Homo sapiens: one gene and its partner. Changing the gene in region 1 together with any one later gene gives a genetic interaction. Each region holds a gene or a part of one and is shown on either strand. Other genes may lie near its edges. The genes, in order: FAM120A and ARID1A.

Region 1 (3,816 bases):
CCCAGAGCTCCAAAAAGCTGACCAGAACCTTCACAGACAGGTAGGAAGTGCATACCCAGAAAAGACAGGACATGCTCAGGCAGTCCTACTCACTCCAAGTTCAGCTCATCCTAACAAAGACAACTTGCCAAATTAGATGGGCAACTCACATTCTTCTCAATCCCTCCCCACCGGAGGAACAAGCACCTCAACTGAAACATGCCCCAGTCACCACCCACGTCCCCAAGTCAGCACCTTGACCTGGTTTCCACATCTCCATCACTAGCATGGAACTCTTGTTGGGGTCATAAAGCTTACTTCTTTTGCTTTTTGTCTTACTTCTTACCTATGTTTCACAGTTTAGAAAGAACATTTCTTACTAAGACAAAAACTGTATTGTACAGACACTTGGACCTTGCTGACATGAGTCACGTTTTACAACAAAATGCACATGCCTTAGAAATCTGGCACATAAGGGCTTCCAAGACCATCAAGCAGTTGTTCTCAAACTTCAGTGTGCTAAAGACTGACTGAGGTGCTTATTTAAAATGCAAATTTGGGGGCCCCAACCAGAGATTCTGATTCAATGGGTACTCAATATATTATCTTGCTAGAGGTTAATTTAAAAATTTGAATATTCAATTGCAACTCTTTACTTCATTTTAGAGTCTTGGCATTGCATATACAGCAAATAAACATTTATTAATTTTATACTTCTCTGCACATACAACAAATCAACATTTATTAATGTTATACTTCTCTGCTATAAACAGGGTATGCATCCCTGGATGGCAGAGAGTCCTTCAGTAAGCTCTGCCCTGGGTCAACAGACATTTATTCCCATTTCACAGATGGACAGAGGACAGAGAGGAAAAGATCACCTGCTTCAGGTGACACACAAGGTAAGAACTGGCATGGAAGCTGACACCTATGTCTCTTACATTTCCTACATCAGAAACAGATGTAACATCAACCAGCCCTGGTTATCTGCGCTGTAAAGTAGAGTTCACACCAAGGAAAAGGAGACACTGACTTAAAGAAAAGAAATATTCTTTCCCTGTTTTTTTTGTTTTAAACATAAGACAATTTAAAGAAAGGGAGGAGTGCAAATTAAAGATTTCCTCGATCAAATTTTAACCAACTATGTATTTGTGAACCCATTTATTCAGGGACACACAGTGTTTAAAATACTCCTCTAAGGAAACAATTCCAGCCTGGGTCTAGGCAGCTTTCTAGGGTTTTGCTTGGGCAAACAGTGTTATTTCCAAAGTGTCCTGTAACCTGCTGAGTTTAGGAGAAGGAGAGGAAATTCAGAGCTCCCTTGATCCAGGAGCCAGAAGATTAATGTTTCGGGGGTCGGCAGGGGGTTGCTGTGACGGGTGTGAGTGGCACCACACCGGACAAATGCCCCCATGTTTTGGTCATCACACAAACCAGTTCTTGTCAAATTCCTCCCCAGAAAGTTTCCTGTGGCTCCAGGCCATGGGGCTGGGATAGTGCAGATTTTAAATCATGGAAACTTCAAGAACATACCTACTCTTCCTCTCTCCTCTCTGTCCAAGGAGCCCCCATCTGAGTACAGACTGACCATCACCCACCTGCAATAAACTACATCTCTGAGCAAAACACCAGCTGGGCTGGCAGGCCAGAAGGCAGCTTCCCCAGGTCACTACCCGCCAGGAAGCACCCAGCGACCCACGCACCACTCACTTTGTCGCCCCTCCGCTGCCCTCGTCGTTGTCGGAAGATGACGATGTAGAAGAGCCAGGGAAGTAGGCGGAATCCACGTGGTTGGGGCTGCCGCTCTGGGCCGGGTTGATGGGCGAGGACCGCTCATACAGCGGCGTGTGCTTCCCTTCGTGAGGAATGTTGCTGTAGCTGTTCTGCTCCGTCAGATTCTTCCCGCTCGTGTCCAAAGTGAGAGGTGCTGGCTCAGAGAGGCTGTACGGGTATGGACCCTGGCCCGGGGCGCCCCCTGGGCTGGGCACCTGTGGGGCCTGAAGCGAAGGGCACAGGTCACGCACACGTGGCCAGCAGGACCCGACTCAGGCCCAGGCTGACGTTTCCTGGCTCATTTTTATTTCAACAAACACTGGCATCTATTTCACGTATCAATTCAAGAGGTTAGGAACTTATTTTAGCATTCGTTGAAATTCAATGCACGCACCCTGTCTGAGACCCGCCACCCGACCCAACGCAGGGAAGGCCTTACCACGGGCTTTGCTTGCAGAGAGGTCTGCGGAATGTTGAGCATCTGAGGAGGAACATGCGGCGGCACCATCCCAGGCATTCCAAACGGACCGGGTCTGGCTGCTTCACCAACACAGAAAGAAAAGAATCACACAGCTGTGAACAGAATGCGTTTTCCAGGGCATCCTGGGGGCCAGCCCATGGCGCCAGGGATCTCACCCTCACCTGGCTCAGACATCGACACCACCATGGGTCCCACTTCTCAGAAATCATTACAAATTGCCATTTCACAGTAAGGAAAACTTAATTTTATGATGCTCCATTTGATGGACTCGGGCTGGGATTCTAACTTTCCAGATTTCTCAGTGAACTTGCCATAGTGGTTCTGCTCTCGTGTACTTCCTGAGGGCCTCGGCTGTCCCTCTGCCTGCAACTTGGTGGGGATTCTCTGTAACTCAGTCTCCCTGCTCAGGGCTGCTCCTAGCCTGAGGTCTCCGTGAAACCAGAAGCCCTGGCAGGCATGAAAGGAACAAAGTCGGACCGAACAGTTTCCTTTACCTTTGTCAAGCAAGAGGACTTTTCTATTTAAAGTACATTGCAACTACCATTAGGTTCTCAGCTAACTAGTGAGTTTTTAAATATAAAAGGAATTGCTTTTCATTGTTCAGCAATTAGGTTACACATTTTAACACATATACAGGATGAGTAATTTGTGATTCTGTGTTCTCTTAAAACATAATTTCATAAACCTGCCTGATGTGTGCTGCCATGTGCTAGTCATCATTCCCACGCTACCTTGCAAAAATGAAGAAATCTGTGAGAGGACTGAAAGCCACATAGAGGAATGGCTGAAGCAGGACAGCAGGACATGGAACCAGGCCAGCCTGAAGCTGGGACAGAAGGCAGGGGCTGGAAGCCTCCCCACTCAACCTCTGGCCTCGCGCGGCCTAACTAAGCACAGGAAGAGAGCTCAGGGGCCACGTCAGCCAACAGAAGTGAATGAGTGAGTAGATGGTGCCCATAAAGGGCTGTTCCAGAGACAGCACAAGACCCGCAGTAACAAGGACCGACTGGGGCCCAAATGATATGCAGGAAGCAGGAGGACATGGGACATGGACCTCTAGGAGCTGCACTCCCTCTCAGAACACTTAGGTGCTGAGGGCCTATGATGTGTCAAGCTGAGGACTGGGCCTGGGGATGAAAGGAGCCCTGAGGCGGTTTAAGTAAGATGCACACTGCTGAAGACACAGAGAAAATAGAAAACCTGTGTGAGACACAACAGATCCACCAGGGGCTTGCACGGCTGCACCATCTCTTCCTTGGGTTTGTTTTAAATGTGGAAGAAAACCAAGCCCAGAGCTTGCTGACTCCAATTTCCCTCTTTAAGCAGTAGATATGCTTCTACAACCTCTTCATCTGAACACCAGTTGATATGGTTAGGCTGCACATCCCCACCCAAATCTCATCTTGAATTATAATCCCCATAATCCCCACGTGTCTAGGCAGAGAGACTAGGTGGAGGTAATTGGATCATAGGGGCAGTTTCTCCCATGTTCTTCTAATGATAGTGAATGAGTTCTCACAAGATCTGATGGTTGTATAAGGGGCTCTTCCCCCTTCACTCGACACTTCTTACCGCTGCCTTGT
Region 2 (3,816 bases), on another chromosome or scaffold:
GCGTTTCAGGGTCAATTTCATAGGTGCATTTGTTGTTTCTCATCGCTATGGTTTAAAAAACTACATGGTGTGCTTTGCACGTGGTCCTGGAAATGCTATTCTTTCTCTTCTCCAGCACACCTGAATTTCCATTCTTTCTCTTCCTGGCTTAGTAGTTTAGAAGTGTAATTTAGGTATATTAGAGGAAGGAAGCTTCCCTTTATAAAGGAGGGAAAAGGGTAGAGGGAACAGTGTTTGATAATTCTGTGCTTGACACAGCATCTTCTATCGTCTCTGAAGGAACCAAATGTTTCAGAGCTTTGTGTAAATACTTGCTGAGCTGTCAATATGTACCCAGGAGGTTTCTGTAGTAAGATGTAAACTGTTCTATAGAATGTTTGACAGGCAAATTAATAAACAGTTTTCAAGCAAAGATAATGCTAGCCTCCTCATGTGGTGGAGTAAAATAACATTGGGGAAAAAGACTTGGGGATAGGAAAAGGGTAGTGCTGGGGGGCAGTGAGTGTGGAGATAAGAAGTGATCTAAAAAAAAATTGAAATGGAAAGATGCTGCCCTGGTAGTGAAACCTCTGTGGCCCTGGCTGCGTGCTAAGTTCAGGGCATGTGGTATCCTGTTAAAGTCAATTGCAGTTTCATAGTGAAAATAGAAGTTTGGAAAGAAGATCCTGACTGTCAATAGTAAGGTAAGTATTACCCCAGACACTTGGCTTATGAGACTTTGAGGTTTAAAGGGTAGCTTGGTGAGATTATTTTTGGCTTGGGTTTGCATTTCTGGAATATTAGAAAGGAGAAAAAAGATACTGCAACTTGAGTGTGATCTTTATCCTCAATTTTGCTGTTGTGCTGGGGATTATAAGTCCACTACCCAATGGCCTGGGTTTATTTATACAGTTTTTACTGGACTTCTGTGTATCACTTATGATAAAATTAATATGCCTTTACACTCTGTTCCTGGGTCAGTACAAAGTCCAAATATTTGGGGACTCACTACATCTTACTTGAAGGATTATGTGAGTAGATACAGTCTTTGTTTTTGAAATTGCCATTTTAGGATTAAAAACATATCTGGGTTCCTTCAGTGACACATTCTTTTTATGGAAGAAGAAGAAGAATCTATGAATATTTTAGCTGTCTGTCTGTGGTCCTCTTCTTTGGTAGCCTTGTGAGATGACCAGATTTGCCTTCTCAGAATGTCTTTTTTAACTAGATTCATTGATTCTGACACCAGTTTTCTTTATAAGAAGTGTTTTTTACACCAGAGTCCTGGAAGTGCCCTTTTGACTTAGCTGTTTATATAGTAGCAGGGAATATGAATGTAATTATGGTCCTGACTATGATTTTTAGGTTCAGCTAACTTACTACCAAAGGCTATCAGCTTGTTTTAATACAAAACACAAAAACTTGGATTGGCACTGACATAGGTTGCTTAATATTGCATGGTCCTTTCCCAGTATGTTGGTAGTGAGGGTATTAGGAACTTCAGACTTATTGCTGAGAGCATAGTTTCTAAGTCAGAGAGATCAGGAAATTCCAATGGGGATGGGAAATAGCCCTATGTGATTACACCAGCTAGGTACTAGGAAGAGATTTAAAAGGTAGAAACAATATCTCCTTCAGAGGCATTTAGTTTTCTTAGGAAAGCATGCTTATGTGCACACATCTGGAAAACTTGAAAAGCAAGGTTTCATAAATGGATGTAGACCACACTAATTATGTGAGCTGAAGGAATTAGAGGAAAAGGTTCAATCAGTTTGGCAGGGTTAACCTGGGACAGCTTTTCAGAGGCTTTTTTTGTGAAGCTAAATGTTCAAGAAACTTAGAATACTAATTTGCCTTTTCATAATGCTATTCTTAAGTTCCATGGGCTTGATAGAATCCACATTGCACATCCATCTCCAGACCAGTAGCTGTCTCAGTGTTCCAATGACTTTGAGAATTTGGACTCTAACCATAAAACTCCCTGAAAGAGTGGTTCCAGGGTCTTAGTGGTTCTTGTGGTCAGGTAGAGCCTTTGGTACAGACTGTTAAGTTCTTGGCTAGTTCAGGGGCACTTTTCTAGTAAATTTGGATTTGGAAGGTCATGTCACCTTCAGAGTTGTGTGCCCTGGACAGCTCTGTAGTAATGGTGGTTCAACTTTGTTGGTGAGTCTGTCTTGGCAGAGTTAGTTGACCTTTCTTAAAACAAGAGCCACGAAGTAAGTATCTGTTGGGACTCTTAGGCTGCTATTTCTGAGGAGCTGGGAGCTGTGTTCAAGTCAAGTTGCTTGTGTTAGACCTTATATTGAGGTTGATGGGTTAGGTAAGCCTGCACATATGCAGTCTGCCCATTTATTCATAGAAATGGCCTTTAATACTGTTTTTGGCCGGGCGCGGTAGCTCACACCTATAATCCCAGCACTTTGGGAGGCCAAGGTGGGAGGATTGCCCAAGCCCAGGACCAGCCTTGGGACCAGGCTATTAACATAGGGAGACCCCATCTTTACAAGACACAAAAATTGCTGGATGTGGTGGTACGTGCCTGTAGTCGCAGTTTACTTAGAAAGCTGAGGCAGGAGGATTGCTTGAGCCCAGGAGGTTGAGGCTGTTGTAAGCCATGATTACGCCAGTGCACTCCAGCCTGGGCAATGGAGCCAAGACCTTGTCTCAAAAAAAAAAAAAAAATTTGTTTTTTATTAGGTTACTATGGCCAAGCAGCTAACAAATGCTGCTCACCAATGCTTAATCCTTGTGGAGCCTCTGGAATATAGTGATTTTGGTTTCTTTACCTGCTGGTCGATCTGTGGTTGGGCCTTGGCACTTCACCGGTCAAGGATCATCAGTGGATGCTTAACAGCTGAAGATGCATGGCATGTCCAGTGCCAGGCCACTGTAATGCTTCTACCTGGAGAAGGATTGGTTACACTGCTCCAGTACAGAAGTACTGCAGACCTTTTTTTTTTTTTGAGATGGAGTCTTACTTTGTCACCCAGACTGGAGTACAGTGGTGCAATCTGGCTCATTGCAACCTCTGCCTCCCAGGTTCAAGCGATTCTCATGCCTCAGCCTCCTGAGTAGCTGGGATTATAGGCTTCCACCACCATGCCCGGCTAATTTTTGTATTTTTAGTAGAGGTGGGGTTTCATCATGTTGGCCAGGCTGGTCTTGAACTCCCAACCTCGGGTGTGATCCACCCACCTTGGCCTTCCAAAGTGCTGGAATTACAGGTGTGAGCCACCACGCCCAGCCTTTTTTTTTTTTCCCCCCCCCTCAAGTAATGGTCCATGACCTGCTGAAAGTACTGGAGTCTTGGATAAACATTCTGGTTTAGAAATACCTTTTCCACTTTTTTTGCCTTGCCATTTTGGCATTTTGCAAAAGTGGGTTTTCAGTTACTCAGAATTGGGCACCATAGTTAACCTCCTATGGATTACAGGTGTTTAGGGGCTTGAACTCTGATCATTCCCAGGTTTTAGAGGAATCCAAGTTCGGGTGAATATTGACTTAGTAGCCTTGAGTATTCTTCCTGAAATTACCCCTCCTCTCCATTTAAATGGATGAAATTAGTTTTTTACTGAATGTGAAGGGACATCTGAATGAACTTCTGTTTGTTTTTGTTAGTCACTTGTGCATAGCTGGAATATTATCTTGGGACAGGTTGAGTCTATTTCCCAGTGGCTTCTGCATTTTCTAAGGGTGGACTGGAATGGGAAGAAGTCTAATGCCAAGAATGCATTCCAACATGCTGCAGAGTAGGAAATTTGATCCCTAAAATGTTGACTTAGTGTTGGTCATGGTACATATTAGAAATCACCCAGTAATCCAGGACAGATTTTTGTC

What was found.
Region 2: changes in FAM120A (region 1) and ARID1A together harm fitness more than expected from each alone (negative genetic interaction), as found in Homo sapiens cells (one large-scale study listed by BioGRID).

Annotation. Positions count from the first base shown.
Region 1 is NC_000009.12:93,514,143-93,517,958, reverse strand, and holds part of FAM120A (constitutive coactivator of PPAR-gamma-like protein 1), read right to left. Parts: intron 2,293-3,816; coding exon 2,192-2,292; intron 1,977-2,191; coding exon 1,690-1,976; intron 1-1,689. UniProt on the Homo sapiens protein: Component of the oxidative stress-induced survival signaling. May regulate the activation of SRC family protein kinases. May act as a scaffolding protein enabling SRC family protein kinases to phosphorylate and activate PI3-kinase.
Region 2 is NC_000001.11:26,702,215-26,706,030, forward strand, and holds part of ARID1A (AT-rich interactive domain-containing protein 1A), read left to right. Parts: intron 1-3,816. UniProt on the Homo sapiens protein: Involved in transcriptional activation and repression of select genes by chromatin remodeling (alteration of DNA-nucleosome topology).